4 linked regions of the Homo sapiens genome follow. The protein of the gene in region 2 interacts with the protein of the main gene of each other region in a pairwise test. Each region holds a gene or a part of one and is shown on either strand. Other genes may lie near its edges. The genes, in order: PLEKHA2, FHL5, TXN2 and BANP.

Region 1 (6,855 bases), on a different chromosome or scaffold from region 2:
TCAAAACCTTGAGCAAATTGTTGAGCTTTATTTTACCTTGGTACAACAAGGGGGCTGAAATAGCTCACATGAAACGTCCTTTTTTGACATTCCTTTCCCCACAGGTACAGTCACATTCTCAGACATCAGGGCTGTTTATTGCACTGAACAAAATTAAAGTATAAAATTAGGCAACAGCAATACTGTACTTTCAAAATGTGTCAATGAAGTGATGGCAAAAGTAAACATAAGAAGCTAGACACAGCCAGGTGCGGTGGCTCACGCCTGTAATCCCAGCACTTTGGGAGGCGGAGGCGGATGGATCACTTGAGGTCAGGAGTTCGATACCAGCCTGGCCAACGTGGTGAGACTCTGTCTCTACTAAAAATACAAAAATTAGCCGGGTGTGGTGGCGCAGGCCTGTAATCCTAGCTACTCGGGAGGCTGAGGCAGGAGAATCGCTTGAACCTGGGAGGCGGAGGTTGCAGTGAGCCAAGATCATGCTGCTGCACTCTAGCTTGGGCAATAGAGTGAGACTCTGTCTCAAAAAAAAAAAAAAAAAAAAAAGCAGCAACAGCAGCTAGACACAGAAGGCCACATATATATGATTCCACTTATATGAAGTATCAAAAATAGGCAAATCTGTAGACTGGATGGAAAGCAAGTTAGTGGTGACCAGGGGCTGGGAGAAGAGAAGAATGGGAGGTGACTGCTTAATAGGTATGGCGTCAACTTTAGAAGCCATGAAAATCGGTTGGAACTAGACAGTGGTGAGAGTTGTACAACATTGTGAATTTACCGAATGCCACTACATATACACTTTAAAATGGTAAAATTTATGTCATGTATACTTTATCACAATAAAAAAGTGTCCCCCCAAAAAGAGAGAAAGGGATGGCAAAACATAGCAGGGCACAGACTCACTTGACGCCTGCTTCAAGGTGACATGAGAGGAGGGTGGGGGTGGGGGTCCCTCTGAGGAAGCCCTGGGAGATCCAGGAATAAGAGAGTGGACATTAGTGCAGGATTTGTCATCTAACTGGGGCCAGGTCCTGGCCAGGGACAAGTGTAGCAGTAAATGGGGCTCCAGTGAAGTATGAGCATCTCCCCGAGTGCACTGATGATGACCTTCCCTCAGCCCAACATGTTCCTGGCCTCCTCCCACTGGTGTCAAACTGTATCCATCTAAGTCCCATTTCAAAGCCCACTCCCTTCTTGAGCTCCCCCACCGTCCCCCCCCACCCCCCATCCCCCATTCAGAGACACATTTCCCTCTTTTTTATTTATTTTTTTTCTGAGACAGGTTCTCACTCTGTCACTCAGGTTGGAATGCAGTGGCATGATAATGGCTCACTGCAGCCTCAAAATCCTGGGTTCAAGTGACCCTCCCATTTCAACCTTTAGAGTAGCTGGGACCACAGGTGCATACCTGGCTAATTTAATATTTTTTATTTTTTGTAGAGATGAAGTTTCCCTAGTTGTCCAGGCTGGTCTTGAACTCCTGGACTCAAGGGATCCTCCTGCCTTGGTTTTCCAAAGTGCTGGGATTACAGGTCGTGAGCCACTGCCCCTGGCTATATCTTGTCCTTCTAAAAGTTGACAGCACTTACTCTCTGTGCCATTCCCAGGGCACAAGCCTGCTTCAGCCTTCTAGAGACACCTGTATTCTCTTGCCACCCAAGGCCTTCTGCTTCTCTTTGCCTCCCAGCATCCAAAACAGTAGTGCTCAGGAAATACTTGTGGCTCTGTGATGGAGTGACTCAGGCAGCCCCACGGGGAGTAGAGTTTTATGAGTTTAATATGAACCATACCCTGAAATCTGAGAAATTTACCTCATTGCTCATGCTGGAAACCCTCAGTTCCAGTCGGATTTGCTTGGAGCTGGATGGAATTGTGTTGCTTTTCATACTGAAAATGATCATCTAATTTTTAAATTTAAAAAACATTTACGTAGCACCTACTTCACGTTCGACAGGAATCTCAACACTTCACAAATGTTAACTCACTGACTTTTCCTAACAGAGGCATTGAGAAGTTAAGTAACTTGCCCAGGGGTCAAAGCCAGTAAACGGCAGAGCTGGGCTTCAAATCCAGGTTCCTTGCTTCCAGAGGAGATGCTCTTCAGTTTGTTCTGGTGCCTGAAACTTACAGATGAGTGGCAAAACCCTCCATGAACGGGGAAAAAAAAGACATTGATGTATTTATTTCAAGGGAAATGTGTGTGTGTGTGTGTGTGTGTGTGTGTGTGTGTGTGTGTGTGTGTGTTTTGCCCATCGTCCCCCTTTTCTTCCTCATTGAAAGCAAAATGCTCTAAAGCAAACAGTCTTTTTTCACACCTGAGACACCGGCGGTGTTCATTTTTGCTTTGGCAATCAAAATGGAAGAGGAAACTTGTGTGGTTTCATCACTGGTGCTTTCGGGGTGTGTGGGGCGGGCTGTCCTTCTCCCTCGGTCCTGGCTCATCGGCCCGAGCCCCCCTCCCCAGGCCTTGTGGCCTCCGGTCGGTCGTGGAGACATAAGAGGCCGCCTTTCCTCTGTTAACACCGGGAATGTGCCCCAGCCTCTCCCTCCTTCCTGCAAATCCAGTCCTTGTCCTGGAGAACCTCAGCGTCTTCTTATGCCTGCCTCTTTCAAAGCCTCGTAGGATTTACACCTGATTAACAACGTTTGCATTAGGATCGCCAGACACCGGCGCACGGCCCCGCAGGCCCGCGCGAATCTTCTACATTTTCATGTTTCGGATGTTGTCCACCTGACTTGATGCATATTCAAATGTCTCTCTCCCGACGTGGGAGGCCGGAGTCAGAACCTGACAGACCTGCCGTTTACTAACTGGGTACCCAGGGCAAATTACTTCACAAGTCTGAGTCTCGGTTTCCTCACCGTGAACCGGACTGGTACCCATAGGTTGCGGCGTGGATCAAATGAGATAGCGCAGGGGCGGGACCCGCGCACAGCAGCTCTCTTAGTTCCTCTTGGCGAGGTTTACGTAGTAACACATGCTTGTCTGTTTCCCATTTTTTCCCAGAGCACCCTCATGCTCTGGGGGCAGGAAGGGAGTCTTCGCATCACACCGAAAAAGTCCCAACGGGCACGGTGTAGGCGCCTGTGGTCCCAGCTACTCGGGAGGCTGGGGCAGAAGGATCGCTGGACCCAGGAGGTCGAGGCTGCAGTGAGCTATGACTGCGCCACCGCACTCCAGCCTGGGCGACAGAGCCAGACCCTGTCTTGATTAAAAAATAAAATAAAATAAAGAAATTAAAGTCCTTATAACCCTGGTTAGAGCGTTCCCGCCCACTGGTCTCTTAGGGCACATTTAGGACAACCTGAAGAAGCCACTCTTCTTGGGACCCTAACCCTTACCCCAACTCCTCGGTCCCCAAAGGCTAAGGGCTCGGGATCCGAAGGAGGCCCAGCTGAGGTCGCTGGGTGGGGCTCTGGGAGGAGGAAATGGGGTTCTTGAGGGAGCTCGCGCTCCAGCTCGCCTCCTCCTGCGAGGACGCCCCCTGCCCGGACACCTGCTGCCCGAGCGAGCGTCGGGGCCGGGCCTCCCCGCGGGGCAGTCTCGGCGCGCAGGTCCCACCTGCCAGGCGCGGAACGCGGGCGGCCTCGGGCGCAGCCTCCGGGCGCCCCGCCCCCGCCTCCCCCGCGCGGCCCCGGCGCCCGGCCGCACCCCCTCCCAGCCCGCGGCGCCCCGGCACCCCTCTCCCTCCCCGGCGGGCTCCGCGGAGCATTGTACTCACATCCGGGGCTGGGTTTTGCTTTAATGCGAAACGTAATTAACCCGGAAAAAAGAGCCGAGGGACGGGAGAGAAGGAGGGGGCACTGGGGGAGACCAGAGCGAGGGGAGCGAGAGGCGCGGAGAGTTTGGCAGGCAGACCCAGAAATCCCTGGAGCGCGGCGGACCCGGCGGCCGGAGGGGCGACCCCGCCCGATGTAACGCGCCCCGCCCGAGCCCCGGCCCCTGCACGGGGGGGTAAGTTGGGCGCCCTCGCGGGCTCGGGAGTGGAGAGGCGCAGAGGGGCGCGCGGGGGCTGGCGGGGCTGGGGGTGCAGGGGGCGCCCCGGCGGAGGCCTGGCGGCCTAGGGGCGCGAGGGGCGCGCGCGCAGGGCTGAATACGCCGGTCCTAGTGGCTGACAGGCGAGGGGAGGTGGCCGCAGACCCTGGAGGCCTCCTCCAACCCTCTGGGAGAGCCCCGAGGGCAGCCCCTCCTCCAAGTGCCCCGGGTGGCCAAGGTCGCCGCCGCCAGGGGTCGGGCTGCGGGGGGTGGGGCCGCGGAGAGGGTGGGGGCGGGAGTTCTGCTGAGCTGCATTTTCTCACGTTTGCAGCAGCGAAACTTCTCTGCGGGTTCTGGCGCTGGGGCACCGACCCCGCAACGACTGCCCGGGCTGCGGGAGGGGAGGAGAGCAGAGAACGTCCCCAGGCAAGTCCCTTGGGTACGGATTGGGCCATGGAGACTCCTCTTTCACTCCCCCGACTACCTTATTAAATGACAGGCCTAGAAGGCTCCCCTAGGGACTCCTGTCCTTTCCTCTGGGTGCAGCCTGGACTTCGGGCTTCTGGAACTCCAGACAGTGAAAAGGACTGCCCTAAAATGCAGGTTCGGTGCCAGGTTGGGTGAGCCCTCGAGGGGAGCTGTCGTTCTCTCTCTCACCAACTTCTTCCTCACCTTACACGCTTCCCTTTTCTCCTCCAGTCCTAAAGACGATTTCACCAAAATTTTTTTAAAAAGAAAGAGAAAAGAAGGGTGTGGGGGGGGGTGGTGGGAAGCTAGGCCGTTTAGAAGGGAAAAGTGTCCCTGCACGCCCAGAGAGGGGCGCAGGGCCCGCTGCGGCCGGAGCACCCTCACATCTCCTCCCCGGGGCCAGCCCTGCCCCCAGGCCCTAGCCTTAGGGTTTGGCTTCCTTCCTTCTTGGTGAACGCAGGTTCAGGATGTATCTTCCCCTTCTCATTCCTTCTTCCTGCCCGCCCCCTTTCTTTCTTTAGGGCTCCAAGTGGGGTTTTCAGAGGACAGTAAACGGCAGAGAAGAGGGAGGGGAGAGCACCCCACCAGAAAGCCAGCTGTGGCTCTGGGGGCTCTGAAGGCTGAGCTGTAGATGCACTTGGGGCTGAAGTCCCAAGATTGCACTAATGGTGTTCTTAATCTATCTGACCAAGTCCCATTTTCCCTTCTTTTGTCATTTTTTTTCTTTGGTTGCGAAGCCTTCCGAAACAGCAAAGCAAAAGATCTTGAAAGAATAGAAGTTTTTGCTTTCTATTTCAGTTGCATTCAGTTGACATGTATTATACATGCAAGGCAGTGATGAACAAAACACAACCCCTGTCTTTATTTTTTCTTTTTCCTTTACCTCTGGAGGGCTGGACCCTGTCTTTGGCGAGCTTACAGGACTTGTAAGCCCCCCACTTGTTTTGAGAAGCCAGAGTAAGCTTTTAGAAAGCATCATCATCATCTCAGACATTAGCCCTCTTCACCATGTGCCGCCTGAAGGCAGATGACTTTTGCACTATCAGAGGTCTAGCTTGTAGTCTAGATTATGGCCAGCCCAACGTATGACATGTACCAGGTGCTAAGTAAATGTTTATTGCATTAATGAATGAATGCAAACACATGAATTGTTTGCACTTGTCCAAATGGCAGAGAAAAGAGCAGTGTGGTTGTTCCTCAAACCTGTAGGGATTTGGTTCTCCAAGCTGGTACATGGGAGTTATTAGTCCGGATGTTGCCTTTACACCTAAGTATCCTTTGACCCTGTTTGTACATTACAGCATGCTTTCTACAAATTGTCTATGGCACTCCTAGTGGGGTTTTAGCTAGCTGGTAATGGGAGCCTTGCTCATTTCACAGATTGGTAATTACCTTGGTATTGATTGAGAAACTGCCTGCCCTTTGGTGAAGAGTTTTTGCAACCCTTTCTTTTTCCTTGTCATTGGTGCTTTCTTCTCTCTTCTGTGTTAAGGAAATAGGGCCTGCAGATCCCATCATGTCATGGTAGTGAGCTGAACCATATTCAGCTCGGTATTTTTGAGTGGTTAAAATAAATCTTGAAGACATGCAGGTTTTGGTTGGTGCAGGTTTTTGTTCTGCAGAAGTGGGAAGGGGAAGGCTGATGAGCCCTATCAGCTGAGCCCCAGAGCAGCCCTCCCACTACCTTGCCAAGTGTTTGCCGAAGTGCTAGGATACTAGGAAGACCCAAGCAGCGTTGGTCTCCTGTCCAATTCATGGGACAGATGGACAGGTGGGTGATGCCCCTGCTGAAAGGCTGGATGACTCAGATGAGAGCTTGCTGCAGACCACAGTGCATCAGAATATCTCTTCTGATTCACGGAAACTGCTGTGGCTCGACTTATTCCGGTTGTGATAGACCTAGGGCTTGGAAAAGAGGATCTGGGTGCTGGGACGTTGGGTTGCTCTGCCCCCTCTCTTTTTCCACCATGAACAGTTTGGGTTGCCTTACTTTCCGTTTTCCATCTGTCTCAGTGAGCTGGATGGGACTCCAGCAATCTAATCTGGTAGGCTTTGGAAAGGAAGGAAGGAAAGCAAATATTATAGTGTGTTGGCCTATGGGAAGAGAAGAACCCTGGCCCTGCCTGATATGAGCCCATTATTGAGATGGGGTATTGGACAGGCGGGGGAGATAGGGCAGCTGAGAGGTGGGAGGGATGCGGCCCCATCCTGTCAGTAGAGGAGGCCGGGGGTTGGTGTAGTGAGACCCTACTGTTCCTTCTGAAAGCCCCTTCCCTGCCCTGACCCCAGTTGACTGAAGTGATTTGTTATGCATTAAAGCCGGAATTGGGCTTTCTCACTGTGGAGGTCCCAGCCCTGCTGGGGCAGGGGCTCCTGATATTGCCCAGTGTGGGCAAAAGGCTTGGGGGCTT
Region 2 (7,545 bases):
AAGAAAGAGATAGCCAAAGGTAGGTTAAGAAATACAAAATACAGCTAGATAGGAGGAATAAGTTTGAGTGTTCTATAGCACTATAGGGTAACTATAATTAGCAATTTATTGTATATTTTCAAATAGCTAGAAGAGTGGATTGTAAATGTTCCCAACACAAAGAAATGAAAAATAAGGTAATAAATATGCTATTTACCCTGATTTGATAATTTGTCATATACATGTATACAAATATCACATTGTACCTGATGGATATGTACAGTTACATGTCTATAGTAATACTAATAAAAGCAAAAAAGAAAAAATTTAAGAAGAAAAAAATCTTAGAAGTCATGTGACTTATGACATGTTACTTAAATTGTTTTATGAATAATTGTAAGAGATAGTTAAACAAAATCAAGCTGGAGAACAAGCCCAAGAAGCATATTTCTCCACTCCACTTCCACACCACCATCTTTAGAGCATTATAATTGCAATGATATTGGAAAAATACAAAAAGGTATATTTTTAAATGGGAGGAGACAACCTGAATATATCAAAATAATCTACTCAGGATCCATTTGGTGAGTATTCCTTTGGCAAAATGAATATGCAAAGGAATCGCTCAAAGCTTTGCTAAAAATCAAGTGAGATAAATTTAAGGTCCATTGGTGCTGGAAGTATAACCGAAGAATTTGAGAAGACAAAAAATAAAAATGACTACTGTTATTATTATTCTAATATAAAATTCTATAACACAGCTGTTTTAATTATATCTTTAAGGTAGGGAGGCAAACTCACTTGCCCTCATTCATAGAAAACTCAGTATGAATGACACTTCAAAACCTTGACTCTGTTCTCCACATCACACTATTGTTTTCAAAGAGACTCTCTAGCTTTATTTATTTAATGAATGTAAACCTTGCTGTTGACATATCCTAGTATGTTCTAATCAGGGTAATTAGCCCATGTGAAAGTTTAGACATATGGTGAGGATAAGGTAAACCCAAACCCATAAGAATGTTTTACTAGTTCATATAAAATACTAGGGTATGTCATCAATAAGCTGATTATTTATTTTTATTTTAAATAGAGTCTCCCTATATTGCCCCAGCTGGTCTTGAACCCTGGGCTCAAGTGATCCCCACGACCTTGGCCTCCCAAAGCTAGGATTACAGAAGTGAGCCACCGTGCCTGGCCTCAAGCTGATTATTTTGCAGGGATTTGAGGCATGTTGGGCAAAAAGGAGTCCTCCTTCTCCTCCTCTTCCTCTACCTCTTTCTTCTCTTCCTCTCCTTCAATGAGCTTTCAGGGTACCAAAAAGTAACCAAGAAAAATTATGGTAATTGGAGAGGAAAAAGATAATTACAAGAACAAGGAAATGCAAGCTGGTTTAACTAATATCTGATTCAGAGCTTCCCATGCGAACCCAAGTATTCAGCTTTCATTTCTAAAGAGATCATGTTCCCTCGATTGAAAAAATAAAAACAGACAAATTAAATATCTGTCTCTAAATATTCTCTAAATCTCTAAATTTTCTAAACTCTTATTTGTAATATTATAGTAGAAAAGTACCCAGTCTTATGTAAGAAACACAGATTAATTCAGCTTTACTCAAAATGTTGGTAAGTGTAATAAAAATAAGAGGTAAATTTGTCAGTGAGGTGGTGTTATATTAAAACACAAATCTACTACTCTTGCTTAGGTAGAACAGTCCCAGATTTGGCAACTAATAATAATGTGAGAATAAATAGAACAAGTGTAGAAAACAGACACTAGAGTTTACCTTCCCCTTAAAGCAATTTGGATTATGGCTTAAAGCATATATCATAACACATATGTTAAGAAATATCTTGTATGATACATATGTTTGCAATACCTATGTTAAATTTTAATCCATATGCTTTGCTAATAAAAATGCTAGTATTTACACATGATGGTATTGTGGATATAAAATGAGGGCTAAAATGGCTCAAGGATTTCCTTACATTTTATGTATGAGAGCTATGCATTTTGTTAATAATTCTTTTTAGTTTCCAATTTTCTAAAGTCTGAAATGACAGCTGAGGAGCTGCATTTGGTTTTCAAATGAATGATAGGTACCAAAGAGGATATGACTAAAATAGTGAGAGAGAAAGCATTAACACATATGGGATGTATGCTTTTTGCCTGAATAACACTACCTCTGTTTCAAGAAGTAGCACTTTAGATTGATATAGTCTATTATATATTTCTGTGGGCTGGAAACACAGATATTTTAATTTAACCTTAGAAAATTAAAGATTATGAATTTTTGTATGCCCACTTCTGGAAAGTAGGCAGATTTTTCTTGAAAATAGCAGGAATCTCATTAACTCCTTTTACTTAAAACCTGTAAGTGACTTCAAAATGTGCTCTTGAAATATAAATCTAGTCATAAAATATGCTCAGTGATAATGTTATTCATTCAAATAAATTAAGCCAAATAAAATCTCAAGAGCCCTCCTCTTCTTCCTCTTTTTACAACAATAAAGCTATACCCCACATTAAGACCATTAGAAAAACTCAAGAGGCAATTCCAAGGAGTTATCTGGCCCCTATGTTACCTCCACATGCAAGTTATAAGAATGAGAAATCTGAAAAGCTCAGCATATAAAATTTGATAACCTTTAGCTAAAATGGCTAAGAAACTTCAAAAGGCATACACTTTTGCCAAGCAAAAGTTTTCTCTTAAGTAGTTACTGGAAAGTTTATAAAAATTTCTCATCCTTAAAAAAAAATTAGAGAAGTCAAAATACCACAAAACAAAACAAAGGAAATATTTGGGGGAAAGAACTCACTTTGTCTTAAAGCCGCTTCTTCCTGTGATTTAAACAGTACGAAAGGAGAATATATGTTGATTATTTTTCCTCCAATCCACATGCATGTCAACTCCAAAAGGAACAGAAAGTCACCAGCACCATCTGAAGATCCCTTCCAACTGCATGCAGCTTTTTCAACTTTGCAGGAGAAAACAGAAGGGTCCCTGCATTTCCTCCAAGTCTTATACCGTGTACATGACTCCTACTGGGCTGAAAAAGCACTATTTGTCAATTTTTACTTAAAACTATGAGTAACAAATTCTCTGCAGGACATCCTTAAAGGGAAATTCTGCCAGGATTAGCATTCGAAGTATCTGGCTAAGCTCCAAAAAGTTTAAAATACACAATGTTCACACAGACGCATACACACTTGAGAAATTTCCACTAACTAGGCTAAATTAAGGGCATATTTATAAAAATAATACTCTAAAAGGATGATGTATTTTCTGTTTCCTCAATCTGTTTTTGGCTTTGTTTTCTTTGTTTTCTGGTGGTGATCAGAACCCTTCTTTTAGGTTAGAAATGTCTGAACCGCTGAGCTTTTCTTTTGGACATTGTCTCTTAGAATCTCCTTTTGAGGCCATCTGGAAAGGGATGAGGTCCCATGCTCTTACCTGCAAAATTATTGGTACCTTAAGAGATGGCCCCCTGGATTGTGGCCTCTATCTCTCCCTTCTTGGGAAATTGGGGAACTCTGAGACATAAGTTTGAGTAGAATACTCAAGGTAGTTCCCTGCTCTCTGGACTTGCAGTGTGGACTCAGCCTTCCCCGCTCTGCCTGCTTCCTGGTGAGCTGGCCACAATTGTGACATCACATCCATGGCTCTATGACTTCATAAAGCATAAACTCATTGAGTCTTTTGAAATCTTCAAAACACAAAAAGTGGACAGAGATGTCAAGAGTTGGATCTGAAGAAATTTTTGGATATTAAACCAATCCATAATAGGTATCCTCAGTGGGGCACACTGATTCATAAGGCAAGTGACATTTTCTCTTAGAATCTCCATTTGAGGCCATTTCTTCAGTTTGGAAGGCAGGATGAGAGAAGAAATTCTGCCTTAATCCCAGACCAAACTTAAACTGTCCTTGTTCTAACTGCTAAAGGAATGAAATGTTAATATCTTCTAAGGTCAAACTCGGGTATATACAGTCAAAGAACTTGAGCTAGAGAAATGCAGAGCCAGTTAACTGTATGTTTTGTTATTCACTTGACTTTAATGATTAAGACATTATGAAAATGAACATATGGCGACTAACAACAATAAATTTGGATTCAGCAAAAGGACACAAGTATATTTCATTAGTAATAGATTTTAATCCTTAGGACACCATTGCTAAACAGGTACTGCCTGTATTTTCCTTGTTTTATGGGCAAGGAAAGCAGTCCTTGAGATGTAAAAGTGCCTGGGACCATCACCCTCTTTATTTGCTCCCATGCTTCCTGAGAGGGTAATCTACATCCACCAAGTCATTCCAAACCTACTACATTCTGAGCCTTCTTCTCCCTCCCAACTTATTGCAATCTGTCTTTCACTTGAACCGCTCCAAAAAAGCTTCATTAAGATCATATACAACCTTGATTAGCAACCCAAAGAGTATGGTCTTCAGTCTTACCGAAAAATTCTCATCTCTGGCCATGTCTATTTCTTTCTGAAATTATCTTCCCTTGGTTTTGCTATGTTACACCCTTCTGATTTTCTGTTTGCTCTTAGCACCCTCACTTTCTCTCTATTCACCTCACTCTTCCCTAGAGCTTTATCTTCTGTTCAGTATGCTTCTCTGCAGACTTTCCATCACGTTCTTCATCAAAACAATGAACAATTTTATACAACATGACTCCCAAATGTGTACTTTCATCTGATACCACTCTTCAAGGTTCCAGACCTGTATCCCGCTATCTATTAGAAAACCTTGTCTAGGGGTCCCCAGCCATCTCAAACTCAACAGTCCCAAATATCCTTATTGTCTTCTCCCCATTCCAAACTTGTTAGTTTGCTGTATTTCCTACTTCAGGGAATGGCACAATCATCCACCCCTTATGTTAGAGTATTCCCTTTCCTCATTTATCCTCCACCATCCCCATCATTGTCCACCTTCTGTAGGTTCTAGTTTGTTAAATGATCTTTCTCAAATTTGTCCTCACCCCTGCATTCCATGTCTCACATGTCTCACTCAGATTATTCTGTCAGCCATAAAATAACTGGCATCTGCCTCAGCCTGATCCCTTTCTATCCTTCTCTATAGAAAAATATTATTTTTAAATAAGTTTGTTAAATTATAAAATACATGCTTCTTGCAGATAATCTGGAACAGAAACTGGAAAACATATACAGAAAATGTAAAATGTAAAATGATTTGCAATCCAAGACAGCCCAGACCAAATCTTTGTGTACCTCTTTAGGCTTTGTATCATTCATATATTAATGATACAGAGAAATGCTAAAATTTTTTGTAAATATATTGCATAACATAGTTATGCAGTATATTTAGTTAGAAAACCAAGACCACATTGTATATACTTGTAGAAAGTGCGAGATATTTTTCTTTTCCATTACTAGGTTTATGGTTGAGGCCCCTATAAAAAAAGGCAAATTAATAAAAGTATACAAATTATTTAATGTAAGTTTTTATGGGACATGGGAGCCTTTCAGAAATGAAGACTCAAAGCAAGAGATAAACGTGTGTATTTTTATGCTTAGATTTGATGAAGAGTGGATAGTCATGGAAAAGTATGACTGGACAAAGGGGATATAGTCTAATGATTATACACTCGGGGGAACTTAGCAAGGCCTGTTTGTTTAGACTCTTCTTTGTGTTCCTTTCTTCCAGGCATAGGGAGGTCTCTTGAATGAGGGTCTTATGACCTGCCTCGGGAGAGAAGGGTAAAGGGAAGGTGGGAATGATCTTCCTGCTTCTGGAGTTTTCTCAAACACCAAGGTGCCATATTTTAGCGTAGTGCATCCTGAACCCCATTATAAATCTGTATCCTTGTTTTCACTTAATATACTGTAATTTTCCAAGCCAATAAAATATTTTTTATTTTATTATTATACTTTAAGTTCTGGGGTACATGTGCACAACATACAGGTTTGTTACATATGTATACATGTGCCATGTTGGTTTGCTGCACCCATCAACTCATCATTTACATTAGATATTTCTCCTAATACTATCCCTCCCCCAGCCCCTCACCCTACAACAGGCCCCGGTGCGTGGTGTTCCCCTCCCTGTGTCCATGTGTTCTCATTGTTCAACTCCCATTTATCAGTAAGAACATGTGGTGTTTGGTTTTCTCTTCTTGTGTTACTTTGCTGAGAATGATGGTTTCCAGCTTCATCCATGTCCCTGCAAAGGACACAAACTCATCCTTTTTTATGGCTGCATAGTATTCCATGGTGTAGATGTGCCACATTTTCTTTATCCAGTCATTCACTGATGGACAAGCCAATAAAATATTTTTAAAGTGGCTATAACAAATAGTTGCTATGTAATAAAATACATAATGGAATAGCTCTCCTTTTTTTTCTCTCTTTTTTCAACACCAAAAGATACACTCAGCATTTAAAACATACAAATCACAGGACTGAGATTAAGACTGAAAAGAGGAAAGGAGAAAAATCTAGAACATTGACTTTAAGTACATTTACATTTATTAGGTTGTATTTAAACAACAATATGTTCTATGTGTCAAGTCTTCAAGTTCTTACCCAACTCTGAAGTCTGTATGATAGAATTAGGTTAAGGACTGCATTTTAGATGAGTAAAGACAGGCTCAGTAGTAAAACAGTTTGACAAAGCACTTTTACTTCTTTACATTGAGTAACACAAAACATGAGACAACCTTTGAGACTTTTGTCTTAGGTTGACTAGTCAGATCGCAGTTTTTCTTTGGCAGACTAGTATCTGAATAGACTATTTCAGAGCCAAGATTGGCCTGTTTCTGTGCAAGAGAAGGTGTCCATGTTCCTCTCTACTAGAGGCTGGGAAAAAAGACTCGTATACATTTTTTAGTCATTTTAATTCTCAGAAAAGGAAGACATTAATTTCACGAATAATATGTACATTTTAAAGAATTTTGGTAAATTGCCAAATTGCTTTCCAGAATGTAATTTTTTTAGAAGACAAATGTAATTACTTAATTTCCCTGGTTAGTTGAATCTTTTAAAGGCTTCCATGTTTTTGAGATAGTGGTTGAACTTTGTAGCTTAGTGTTTAAGGCATTTCAAAACCCCCCTATTCTCTCTACTTTATCTTACACTACTTCCCCAGATCAGTTATTATATTTCTCAGACTTCTTGGCTCCCCACATCTCATTATTTCATTCTAATTAGCGTCATAGTACTTCTGTACCTCCTTTTCTCTGCCTTAATATGCTCTCCTTCCCTTCTCTCATTTTCACCAAGGCTAATCCTTCTTTTTTTCTCTCTGGACTCTTGGTTCAGGTGTTATTTCCAGCCTCCCCATTGTGCAACACAGTCTAAATTTCATTTCTTGTCACAACACCCTCTGTGTACTTTTACCAAGACACTATATTTAACTGTAATTATTGACTTGTTATTTCTTTGAAAGTAAAACATACCTTTAAAGTTGATATGTGCCTTCCTAGTATTTAGCTGTCATACACGATCGAGTAAATTAGGCCAAGTCCATAAATTCACCATGTTCTCCCTTTCCTCCATTTCACCATCAATGTAATCCTGTCTTTCCTGCTCCTTAAAACAAACA
Region 3 (5,126 bases), on a different chromosome or scaffold from region 2:
TGACTGGCAAGCCTGGCTCCCTTGGCACACTCCTCTATGGCCAAGGGGAGCTGGGGGCCAAGAGGGGTTGTCTGGTCCCAAGGCCCAGAAGTTCCTGCAGGCACCCATGGGAAGGATAGCCTGATCCCCACAGGGCCAGGCACCTGCTGGGGCAGCCAGGAGCCCTGTCAGTTGGGGAGGCCTCAGAAGGGTCAAGGGGATCAGCTGTGGGAGCCCAGGTTTCAGAGGCAACCACGTCTGGATAGAAACCCCAGCTCTGCATCCCATGAGCCACAGTGTCTACATCGGGGTAATGGGGACAACAGCCTCTTGCCTTAGGAGGGCACGAGGACTGGCACATGGCATCCTTAGAATAGCAGCCACTGCTGACAAGCATGTTAGTGAACAGGAAGGGCTGGTTGGAGAGAGTGTTGTGGAGTTAGGGGAGGATGTGGGGACAGTGGACAAGCCCCCTGGGAAAGGGTGACAAGTGCTCTGAGCCCACACAGATGTGACATTGCAGATGGTGCAGACCCTTGCTTTATTTGTCTGACTTGTTCACAGTTCAGCCCCCTGCTCAGAAAACCAACGGGCCAGCTAAGGAGAGGAGGAGGCACCTTGAGACTTCCGGAGTCGAGGCTCTCCAGGGTTCCCCAGCCCATCAATCATTTTCTGCACCCCCTGCCTGGGAGGCAGCTCCCTGGGGGGTGGGAATGGGTGACTAGAGGGGATTTCAGTGTGGGACCCAGGGTCTGTTCTTCACAGTAGGAGGTGGAAGGGATGACTAAGTTCTTTATCACAGACCTACAAAAAATGAGATAATTAGATATTACTCTCACTAGTTTGGGCTTCTTTTTTCTTTTTCTTTTTACAAAACAGCAGCTGGAAAGAGAAATGTAGGTGGCAGACGAGCCAGGCACGAGGTTTCAGATTGGAAGGGACCAAGATGAGGACCAAGGTGTGGCTGCCTGACTAGGAACGCTGTGGGCTGGCCCAGGCTCTCGCCACACATCCTGGGAGAACTGCCATAGGCCCTAGAAGGAGGGATGAAAGGCGTATGGGAGGGAAGACAGCGGTCCCCGGATCAGCAGCAGCACCACCATCCTCTGATGGCCCCTGGGCAGTCCGCCAGCTCGGAAGCACTCAGGGCTGGAGCCTGGGCTCTAAGCATGGGCCCCAGGAGCCAGACAGGAGGGAGGCAGCAGGAAGGGCTGGCATGGAAGGGCTGAGTTCTATTGGGGTCCCACGCGGGCAAGGGAACCAGGACTCATCCCTGCTTGTCAGCCAATCAGCTTCTTCAGGAAGGCCTCCAACTGATCCTCATCCTTGATGCCCACAAACTTGTCCACCACGTCCCCATTCTTCATGGCCAGCACAGTGGGCACCGCTGACACCTGGGTGGAGAGGACAAGGGGGTCCAAGTGAATTGGGAGTGAATACTTCTCAACTGCCACTCCTGAGCCTTTGTGGGGAAGGCTGGTGGCTTATCCAGGGCACTGACTTCCCAAAGCCATGGGCAGGCCTAGAGGAACATGGCTCTTCTCTCGGTGCAGGGGTACTGCAGGGCCCGGGGGCCACCCGCTGAAGAAACGTCTTCCATTGCGGGCTCCCAACAGTACCCTTCCTCCCTTAACCACAAGACTGACTCACTGGCCCAGTGGTTTTGCTGGAATGACAGGAGAGATGAAAATAACCCTTGCAGCTGCAGGCCAGGGCTGGGGGCAGGGAGGAGCTCAGGGGAAGCCTGGCCCAGGAGGAGACAGAAGCTGGGGGACAGTTCGAGTCCTGGCTTTGCACTCACTAGCAAGGGGGCCTTGGCCGGGTCACAGCACCTTTCTGAGCCTCAGTGTCCTTTTCCATAAAATGGGGGTAATGTCTACCTTTAGGGTTTGGGATGAACATTAAAGATTCAAGTATAGGCTGGGCACAGTGGCTTATATCTATAATCCCAGCCTTCTGGGAGACTGAGGCTGGAGGATTGCTTGAGTTCAAGAGTTCCAGACCAGCTTGGGCAATATAGTGAGACCCTTTGTTTACTAAACCCCCCCAAAATATTAGCCAGGCATGGTGGTACATGCCTGTACTCCCATACTCGGGAGGCTGAGGCAGGAGGATCGCTTGAGCCTGGGAGACTGAGGCTTCAGTGAGCTGTGATTGTGCCACTGCACTCCAGCCTGGGTGACAGAGACCCTGCCTCAAAAAAAAAGAGAAAGATTTGAGTATAAAGCAGAGCTCAGGCTGGGCGCGGTGGCTCACACCTGTAATCCCAGCATTTTGGGAGGCTGAGGTGGGCAGATCATTTGAGGTCAGGAGTTCGAGACCAGCCTGGCCAACATGGTGAAACCCTGTCTCTACTGAAAATACAAAAATTAGTCGGGCATGGTGGCAGGCACCTGTAATCCCACCTACTTGGGAGGCTGAGGTGAGAGAATTGCTTGAACCTGGGAGGTGGAGGCTGGAGTCAGTGGAGATTGCACCACTGCACTCCAGCCTGGGTGACAGAGTGAGACTCCATCTCATAAATAAATAAATAAATAAATAAATAAATACATAAATAAAGCAGAGCTCAGGTTCTGGCGGACGCAATCCGGCTCCTACCAGCCAGGTGAGCTGGGGCACGCCCCTCAGTCACTAAGCCTCAGTGTTCTCAGATGCAGGATGGAGATACTAAGGGCACTGCCATTAGAGGGCATGAAAGCTGAATGAAATAACGCAAGTAAAGGCTCAGCACAGCGCCCGGCAAATAAGCTTAGGAACCTGGCATTGTGCCTGGCATACTGTGGGCATTCAAAAAACAGTGGCTACAGAGGGCACAAGGAAAAGTCCAACACAGGCCCCACGAGAGCACATTAGCTTGCTGCTGTGATGAGTGACAGGGTCCAGAAACTCAGGGACTTCTACTGGACAGCATGAGAGGAGAGGCTTGGCCATACACAACCTGACGCTTATTAGCAGGTTGCAGGCAGATGGCAAGGACAACATTCTTGGTCTGTGAAGCATTTACTCAGTTCCCTCAGGGACCTGCATAGGTTATGTGGAACGTGGATGAGGCTGTGGCCCACCAGACTGGCATTGTGAGGTCTCTGCTGCCTGGGATCCCTGCCTGGCATTCGTGGGCATTTGAGAAAACCATTTAAACAGAACAAGATAGGCCGGTCGCTGTGGCTCACGCCTGTAATCCTAGCATTTTGGGAAGCCAAAGCGGGCAGATCACTTGAGGTCAGGAGTTCGAGACCAGCCTGACCAACATGGTGAAACCCCGTCTCTACTAAAAATACAAAAATTAGCCGGGCGTGGTGGGGCATGCCTATAGTCCCAGCTACTCGGGAGGCTGAGGCAGGAGAATCGCTTGAACCCGGGAGGCAGAGGTTGCACTGAGCTGAGATTGTGCCATTGCATTCCAGCCTGGGCGACAGAGCAAGACTCTGTTCCCCCCCTCAAAATAAATAAATAAAAATAAACAGAACAAGATAAACACAGACTTTTCTTACATACAAATTAAACTACAAAGTAAGAGCAGAGATTCACACAAACATACCAGGTCTTCACATATCCCAGTGCTGCCCTGCCACGGCCCATCTTGGAAGCCAGTAAGATTCAGAATGTTCAAAAACCATGCACATGGTAGTTAGGAAAGGCACGCAGGCCAGACCATCCCGCCCTCACCCACTAACTTTACGTGGCAGGCCCTGCACCCCACTCCTCACGGACACTTTGGGGACAAACACAGCAGGTCACAGGACACAGTCCTTGTCCTTGTTAGTGCCTCAGGCCCCTTCAAAGGCTGTCCCTGGGCTGATGTGGGTGGCAAACCCTGTCTCCAGGCAGAGCAGGGCCCGAAAGAGTTTGCTCCAGGAAGCGCCTGAAGCCACCAGGGCCTTCCCAGGCATTCTTTGGTGCCCTCTAGTGGTCTGCAAAGGCAGCTGGAGTGCCTCAAAGCCGGAGCCTCTTGGCAGAAGCAGAGAGCTCAGCCACCGGCTCCCACCTGCACACTGTCCTATTCCTTTAATTAAAATATATGCTTTATGCCACTGTATAAGAAGTGGCCTAACTTTTTTCACGGCAAGACTCTAAGTTCACTGAAGAGGCTCAGAGAGTGGACTTAGCGTTCCTTAAGAACTCCAGATAGGCACAAGCACAGTGGCTCACACCTGTAATCCCAAGTACTTTGGGAGGCCAAGGCAGGAGGACTGCTTGAGGTCAGGAATTCATGACCAGCCTGGGCAACATAGCAAGACGTCGTCTCCATAAAAATATTAAAAAAAAAAAAAAAGAACTCCAGATGAAGGCCATAATGATCTCACTCATGTAAACCTCCACACATGCTTGAACACGCACAGACCCTGCTGGTGTCAGGTAGACAGCAGATGTGCTGTCAATGGAGGTCTGGTCACTACTGATCAAGGGGATATTTTGAAGTTGAGCTTAAACACACACACGCATACACACATATATACACACACACACATACACACTACCCGCACTAGGGGCTCACAGGAAACCTGAGCTGGAATGGGACTTCCCTCGACCCTGAGGAGGCGGCTGAAGCTCTGCTGCTCCTGTGTCTGGCTCACACATCAGGAGGTGCCGGTGCCTGTAAACACTGCCTTACATGGAAGTGCACAGGGCCTTGGCACATTCTTCTGGAATGTTTTGAGTGTGAAAGAGGCAGTGACTGAGCCAACTGAGGGGCTGAGGAAAAGATACGCTACGACGTGTTGCCTGTCCTGTTCCGTGAAGCCACTTGGAACCTCCTATCCTTGGATAAAGACCCTCTGAACTCGGCAGGAGTGGGGGAGTGTGTACGTGTGCGCAGTCTCTTTCTGCTAACCCGTAGCTCGCCTGCACCGCCACTGAGCTCCGTGTCCTGGTATGTCTTCTCCTGTCCCACCCCGATGGCATCCATCTGTTAACTCAGCTAAGGGCCTACCAAGGGAAAGGCACAGTGCTGGGTGCTGCGGGATGTTGCAACCTCCTCCTCGGCTCATTGCAGAGTTAAAAGGAAAAGATCGCTGTCACATGCTGGGTGCTTTTTCGTGTCAGGAATGATATAAACACCTCTATACACTATCTCACACTCTCCTGGCTGTGGGCAGGATCATTTTAACGATGAGAATACTGAGGCTCAAAGGGTGAGCAACTGTTCC
Region 4 (7,031 bases), on a different chromosome or scaffold from region 2:
ACCAAGAGCTACCACGTAAGTCATTCTACTGCCTGGGAAGTCCATGGGACCAATTCCTGGCAATAATTCAATTAGAATTCAACCACAATCCTTCCCCCACTGAAATGAAGTACCTAACATTTTATGTATAGGATCAGTCACGTTTTGTAAGAATTATCAAATGCATACACAGCAGAAATTTAAACTCTTGATTAAGAACCTAACTAAATCCCTTAATGGACAAACAGATCCCATGCTAGGTCCATTTTAGCTCAACTTGTTTCTCTAACTCAGCTGGCAGCTTAGTCATTGAATGATGAGGCCCCACACACTTTCAAGTACAAAACAAAGCTATGAGCACACCAAGACCAAAACTACTGACAAAAGGCAAGCACAAGAATGAAGACACAGTCTACTGTTCCCTGCTTTCAACAGTCAGGAACTACCGTCCTTATTCCAATGAGACATAGTCTACTGTTCCCTGCTTTCAACAGTCAGGAGCTACAGTCCTTCTTATTCCAATGAGACACAGTCTACTGTTCCATGCTTTCAACAGTCAGGAGCTACAGTCCCTCTTATTCTAATGAGACACAGTCTACTGTTCACTGCTTTCAACAGTCAGGAGCTACTGTCCTTCTTATTCTAATGAGACATAGTCTACTGTTCCCTGCTTTCAATAGCTGAGAGTTAGCGTCCTTCTTATTCTAATGAGACATAATCTACTGTTCCCTGCTTTCAATAGCTGAGCGTTACCGTCCTTCTTATTCTAATGAGACACAGTCTACTGTTCCATGCTTTCAACAGTCAGGAGCTACCGTCCTTCTTATTCCAATGAGACACAGTCTACTGTTCCCTGCTTTCAATAGCTGAGAGTTACCATCCTTCTTATTCCAGTGGAGCGTGTGTAATGACAAACGGAATTACCTAAGTGAAAAAAACTAGAATAAAATGATATGGTATCTTTGCAGTACAATAAACTGACTCCAAATTTGATACAAAACAGCATGTCAATTCACACAAGCCATTTGGAATTCTTAAGAAATAACCGTTTTGAAATCTGTGGTTCTCTAAGACTTAAGGCACTTAAATACTTAAATAAGAAGCTAAGAACAATCTGTCTCCTGCGGCTCCTATTTCTTATCAGGGCCTAAAACAACTAAATAGAAAGACAAGCACACCCCCTTTAGCACTTCCCATATTCCTAATGCTTTCCCTCGTAGAAACTCGCTGATTCACCACCTGCCCAGGTGCTCTGGGACAGAGGGCCACAGGCAGGAAGATGCTGGCCCCATTCTCGGCACATTCGCACCCCCCATGGAAGTGCTGAAGAGAGGACGCCACTACGGGCTGAGATTAAATCTGACATAAGAGACATTAATGGATTGGCTATTTTCCCAACATTTACATACACAGCAATCATTTAAAGGTGACTTCCTCATTTTCACCAAGCCACTATGCCAAATAAGGCAGCTCAAGCAGATATTTTCATAACACCGACCCCACTGGGATATACATTCCCAAGGACAGTCAGTGAAACAGATTTATTACAAAAAATGTTTCCTCCTAATGGGATGAGAAAACAGAATGGCTCTGGATGATGACCTCTCCTTCAAAATAAAGTCAAATTTAAGATGAGAAAAAGTTCTGCAGTTCACCCCAATCCTAACAACCTGTGTTGTACAGCAAAATTATGTTTGATGAGAACAATCAGTGGTAAAGATGGCTATAAAACTCTGCTCAAAGCCTAGCTAAAGAAAAATGTCTTACACAAAACATCAAAAAAACTTAAACTCAGACACAAAGAAAATTTGTATTTTTCCTTATAGATACAGATCAATACTAAGTAAGCTCCAAATTTGATATCGTCTCATAAGTTCATTTAGATTTTTTTGTTTTTATGACCCTGGACTCCCCAGAATTACCAAGTTTTTTTGCCTTAGCTAACACAGTTTCAATCAAACAAACATCAGGCCTGAAGGGGGTGGCCAGATCTATGTGGGGATTTATACAAAATCCACATCCAAAAATAATTACAACAATTAGTCTGTCGTTACTGCAATGTGATTTTCAATTTCTATGAAAATGAAATCAGGAGCATCCCTCCTTTCCTCAAATTTCATGTGTGAAAAACTCCATTGCCCTGATCCTGCAATTAATACATACACAAAAACCTGCACCTCAACGTTCACAGCAGCATTCCTGACAACAGCCAAAAAGTGCAAACCACCCAGATGCCCATCAACTGATGATGGATCAACAGAATGAGGGCCATCCATACCTCGGCACATCACGCAGCCATGAAAAGGAACAAAGCACTGGGCAAAAGCTACAATGTGGGTGATGCCACAGGATTCCATTTAGAGTCAAGGTCCACAACAGGCACATCCACGAGGACGGAGATGAGCTGGGTGCCGGGGCTGGAGGCTGGGAGAATGGAAAGTGACTGTTGATGGGCACAGGGCTTCTTCTGGGGGTAATAAAAAATATTCTAGAATTAGTCCGAAGTGATGACTGTACAACCTTGAGAATATACTAAAAACAACTGAGACGTATGCTTTAAAACAGTCAATTTTATGGTATATAAATTAGATCTCAACTTGGAAAAAAAAAAAAGATCAACTCAACGTCTCTTTCTCTCTTCCCTCCATTCTGCCATCTGAATCCTAGCAATTTGTATTAGAGGTAAAAGCAATTTTTGTGGAAGACATTGTTTTCAATGTTTCAGATACGGTAATGAGTCTTCCTAACAGGAAAGCCTTTGTTCACTAGACAAAGCAACATCGAGTTGCTAGGAAAAATCAACAACTCAGACGCAGATGCAGAAAAACTGAGTTCTTCCTAGTAAGCAAGGAAAACACATGCTTTACAACTCCACGCACAAAGCTAAGTCTGTTTGGTTCTTTCTTTTCTCCACGCTGTAGTCACTGACAGTCATCTGGTCACTTACGGTGACAGGATGAAGGGCACACAGAGGCTCTCAGGGGAAGACGGCTCTGAAAGGCACACTGGGCAGGCCGAGGGCCAGGCGGGAGGGCACCTCAGAGCCCTGCAGGAGAGAGGCCCCCGCTAGGAGTCCAAGTAGGACAAACAGCTTCACATCCTTCCAGATCTCGGGGGAAATGGGCAATGCATCCTGTGCCATGGAACCCGTGGAAGCTGCGTCCTCTAGCCCAGCAACCTGCCTCTGAGAGCCCACGTCCAGACACTGATCCAAGAGACATGAAAACACAGCAGGCCAATGCTAGTTTCAATAACGAAAGGTTAGAGGGGGCCATCCCTGGAAAGCATCCAGACCTGATGAAATAAGCAAAACTGGCTAAAAATGACTCTGTCCATCTGCACTAACGTGGAAAGATTTCTACTGTGTAGGGGAAAGAAGTGAGTTATAAAATCATAAAATGTGCACCAAAAAACCCCAAAAGGTTTAGAGATCTCAGAATGGTGGGATCACAGTTATTTTCCCTTTAATCTTCATGTTTATACTGTATCACTATCTTTTTTTTTTTTTTTTTTTTTTTGAGACAGAGTCTCTGACGCCCAGGCTAGAGTACAGTGGTGCGATCTCAGCTCACTGCAACCTCTGCCACCCAGGTTCAAGCAATTCTCCCGCCTCAGCCTCCCAAGTAGCTGGGATTACAGGCACCTGTCACCGTGCCCAACTAATTTTTGTAGTTTTAGTAGAGATGGGGTTTCACCATTTTGGCCAGGCTGGTCTTGAACTCCTGACCTCATGATCCACCCGCCTCAGCCTCCCAAAGTGCTGGAATTACAGGTGTGAGCCACTGAGCCTGTCCTATACTGTATCACTTTTTTTTTTTTTTTGAGATGGAGTTTCCTCTATTGCCCAGGCTGGATGCAATGGCATGATCTCGGTTCACCGCAACCTCCACCTCCCAGGCTCAAGCGATTCTCCTGCCTCAGCCTCCCGAGTAGCTGGGATTACAGGCACCTGCCACCACACCCGGCTAATTTTGTATTTTCAGTAGAGACAGGGTTTCTCCATGTTGGCCAGGCTGGTCTCGAACTCCCGACTTCAGGTGATCCGCCCGCCTCAGCCTCCCAAAGTGCTGGGATTACAGGCGTGAGCCACCGCGCCTGGCCACTGTATCACTTCTTTAAAAAACAACAAAATTTCTAAAAGGCAAAACAAACAAACAATTGTACTGGCGCTCTGGCCGAGGAAAGCCGCCCTGGACGCACCTTCCGAGTTCAGGGTGATGAGCGTGACGTTGCTCCCGATGCTCTGACTGCCCGCCTGCCCACAGCTGGACACAGAGTCGCTGGCCTCCGAGCCGCTCTCCCCGTCCTCGTGGTGGCTGTCTTCTTGGCCCGGCACCTTCACCACAATGGTGTTCTGCCGACGCCCAGGCACAGCGCTAAACGGGAAAAAAAACACACCAGCCCGATGTGGTAAGAGCCGCAAGCAGCACGCGAAGGTCAGCGCTTTCCTTATCGCAAAATCTAACTCTGTGTGGACCAGTGGATCACACAGCCTTCCCATACTGCTCTCTCTACCAAGATTAATAGAAACTCCATGGGAGAAAATGGCCTGGGGCTGAAAGAAACTGTATAAAATAAAACTTAACCATTTAAAGAAAATGTTTGTATCACAAAAGGAGTAAAATCATACTCACTGGGACTCAGGCCTAGCATGCTGCCTTCTGAGTTCAGTAGTCATCCCATAAAATGCTGGTAAGAGTCTTTTTTCCGGCGAGGTTAAAGGGAAGACTAAATGAGGAAAACTGTGCCCAGAGGCCTGGGTCAATTCGATCCACGCTGCTGGGCTCGCTGGAGATGGCTCCCCCTCGCAATGCGAGCAGCACTCCCACGTACGCCCACGGGCAAAAAACCCTGACGGGGCTTAAAAAACCCACTGAGATCCCATCGGAGCTGCCATCATCCCAAGGGCTGCTGATGTGGAAGGACAGAACACTGCTAGCAAAGCAGGGCGAGGCCACCTCCACAAGTGCTCAAAAAAAAGGATGATTTAGAGACTTACTACTTCCCTTTTTTAGTGACCCTTTCAACATCCTCTACCGTGGACTGCTACGCACCAGCAGGAGAAAGGAGCACAATTTCTCTATATGCAAAGTCAAAAAAAAGGGTGTTGAAAACACTGGCCGCACCCAGAGGAGGGCGCTGCACTCTGCACTTTCTGGCCTGGATTCTCTAGAGCGCTGTCCACGCTGAACCTGATCTCAACACTGGCCATCTGCCTGGCTGACCTCAGTGCAAAGCCCCTGAGGCACAGCTGACCCTGGCACCTCCTCACCGCCCATCACCAACTCCTCTCCCTTCACCCCACGTATCAGACCCTTGCGACCACAGCTGCGGCCCTGGAGAACTGAGCTAAGACAATACAGAAAGGGGACGAAGCTGGAGGAGGAGGAATCCACAAAGGAGACTGAGAGAAAAAGCAAATAGAACTTTGTGAAGACACAGATGGGAAAGAAAAAGCAACAGCATCCTCAGGGGTTCACGCAGCCCCAGGGGCACTCCTGGGGACAGCAGGGCTTGGATGCCAGCCAGAGGCCACTGCACAGCCTTCCCCTCACACAGAGCGGGGACGGTGTCTTCTGTCCACTCCCACCTCTGACCAAAGTTCCATTCAAAATGTCTCAAGAGAAAAAGGTATAAGAAAAAAGTCATAAACTCAACATGCCTGCACCACTTAGCAACCGTGGGAGAGGGCGTCTGTTTGCCTGACACGCTCTGCACAGACAGACGTGAGGACCACTGAGCTAGGTGGGAGGATGAACGCTTTCACAGACTGCTGTGAGGAGACAGAGCCAGCCCCCTCCACAACCCCGGCCAGCACGAGACACAGAAGTCCCCGGCGGCAGCTGCCCCTGGTGTGGCTGGACTCAGCATTCAGCATCGCCCAGCCTGCCCTCCCCGACCTCAGAGAGCTGGGGCGGTGCCTGCCAGGCTCAACCCTGTGACCACAGAGATGAAGCGTGTGCTGGACTGTGCCCTGGCTTAGGGACGTTGACTTATTCTCATGGGACTCCGCACAGTGGCAGGGAAAGGTGGGGTTGGTGCCGTGCTACTGACTTGCTAATGACATTTTCCAGGGAATCCGGTGCCCTGTTGCTCAAGGGGTCTTCCATCTTGGCTACAATGGCGTTCTGCCGATCATTGTTGAGTATTACTGTAGTCTGGGGGACGACGCTAGGGAACAAAAGAATCACAAAGAAAAAGAAGGCCTTAAAACAACAACATTCATGGTAAGAGCACATAAGAGTCATTCAACACAGTCCACTCCCAGGGACCCGCACTGAGGGGGAGGCCTAAGAGTCATTCAACATAGTCCACTCCCAGGGACCCGTCCTGAGGGGGAAGGAGCCCCAAATGCTAAGGAAGAATAAACTGGAGATGGGGTTTTTAGCAGAACGTAACTTTTCCTAATTGTTGGTGATCTGTCTGCACAACTGGATAGCACAGGACAGCTGGGCTGAGGATGCTGAACTTGTGACAGAATAGACTGCAACCGCACCAGCTGTTATCGCACCCAGTTAATAAAGCTTCTAGGGTGGCACACTTGCATGAGAACTGGCTTGACATTTTCAGTCACTCCATCCCAACTCATTCCTATGGGACAGATCTAACGTTCGTAACCACGTAAGTGTTGGTATCATTCCAAAACGGTAGCGCCCTGGAAAGAAAGGGGCAAACATCACGTTGGACTTGGGATGGAAGGACACACATGCTGCCTCCAGGTCCTGCAGGAACATGTGTGAGCTACAACCAAAGGGCTCAGGGTTCTGCTTTGAAGGAAAAGATTCTACAAAAGAACAGACCATGGCCCAGAAACCAGCAAGCCTGGCGCCACCCTGGAGGAAGCACGAGTGTGTTCAGACAGGCGGCAGCTAACACAGCTTCATCTCAAAGTACAGACTCACCCACAGTTTTCAATCATGCGTTTTTAAGCCTTAGCACTTTCTGGTCACAAGGGATATCTAAGGTCCGCTTTGTTGTGGAAGGCTGGGGAGAGAAAGAACTAGCACTAGAAACACAACGTGATTATCACCTGACAATAAAACTCCATTCTT

What was found.
Region 1: the proteins of FHL5 (region 2) and PLEKHA2 interact in binary tests that used the Homo sapiens proteins (3 or more experiments, as listed by UniProt).
Region 3: the proteins of FHL5 (region 2) and TXN2 interact in binary tests that used the Homo sapiens proteins (3 or more experiments, as listed by UniProt).
Region 4: the proteins of FHL5 (region 2) and BANP interact in binary tests that used the Homo sapiens proteins (3 or more experiments, as listed by UniProt).

What each region holds. Positions count from the first base shown.
Region 1 is NC_000008.11:38,897,491-38,904,345, forward strand, and holds the start of PLEKHA2 (pleckstrin homology domain-containing family A member 2), read left to right. Parts: upstream 1-3,855; 5' UTR 3,856-3,955; intron 3,956-4,273; exon of another isoform or gene 4,274-4,579; intron 4,580-6,855. UniProt on the Homo sapiens protein: Binds specifically to phosphatidylinositol 3,4-diphosphate (PtdIns3,4P2), but not to other phosphoinositides. May recruit other proteins to the plasma membrane.
Region 2 is NC_000006.12:96,558,609-96,566,153, reverse strand, and holds the start of FHL5 (four and a half LIM domains protein 5), read right to left. Parts: upstream 3,027-7,545; 5' UTR 2,799-3,026; intron 1-2,798. UniProt on the Homo sapiens protein: May be involved in the regulation of spermatogenesis. Stimulates CREM transcriptional activity in a phosphorylation-independent manner.
Region 3 is NC_000022.11:36,466,545-36,471,670, forward strand, and holds the end of TXN2 (thioredoxin, mitochondrial precursor), read right to left. Parts: intron 1,374-5,126; coding exon 1,260-1,373; 3' UTR 502-1,259; downstream 1-501.
Region 4 is NC_000016.10:88,003,414-88,010,444, reverse strand, and holds part of BANP (protein BANP), read right to left. Parts: intron 6,151-7,031; coding exon 6,034-6,150; intron 4,356-6,033; coding exon 4,180-4,355; intron 1-4,179. UniProt on the Homo sapiens protein: Controls V(D)J recombination during T-cell development by repressing T-cell receptor (TCR) beta enhancer function. Binds to scaffold/matrix attachment region beta (S/MARbeta), an ATC-rich DNA sequence located upstream of the TCR beta enhancer.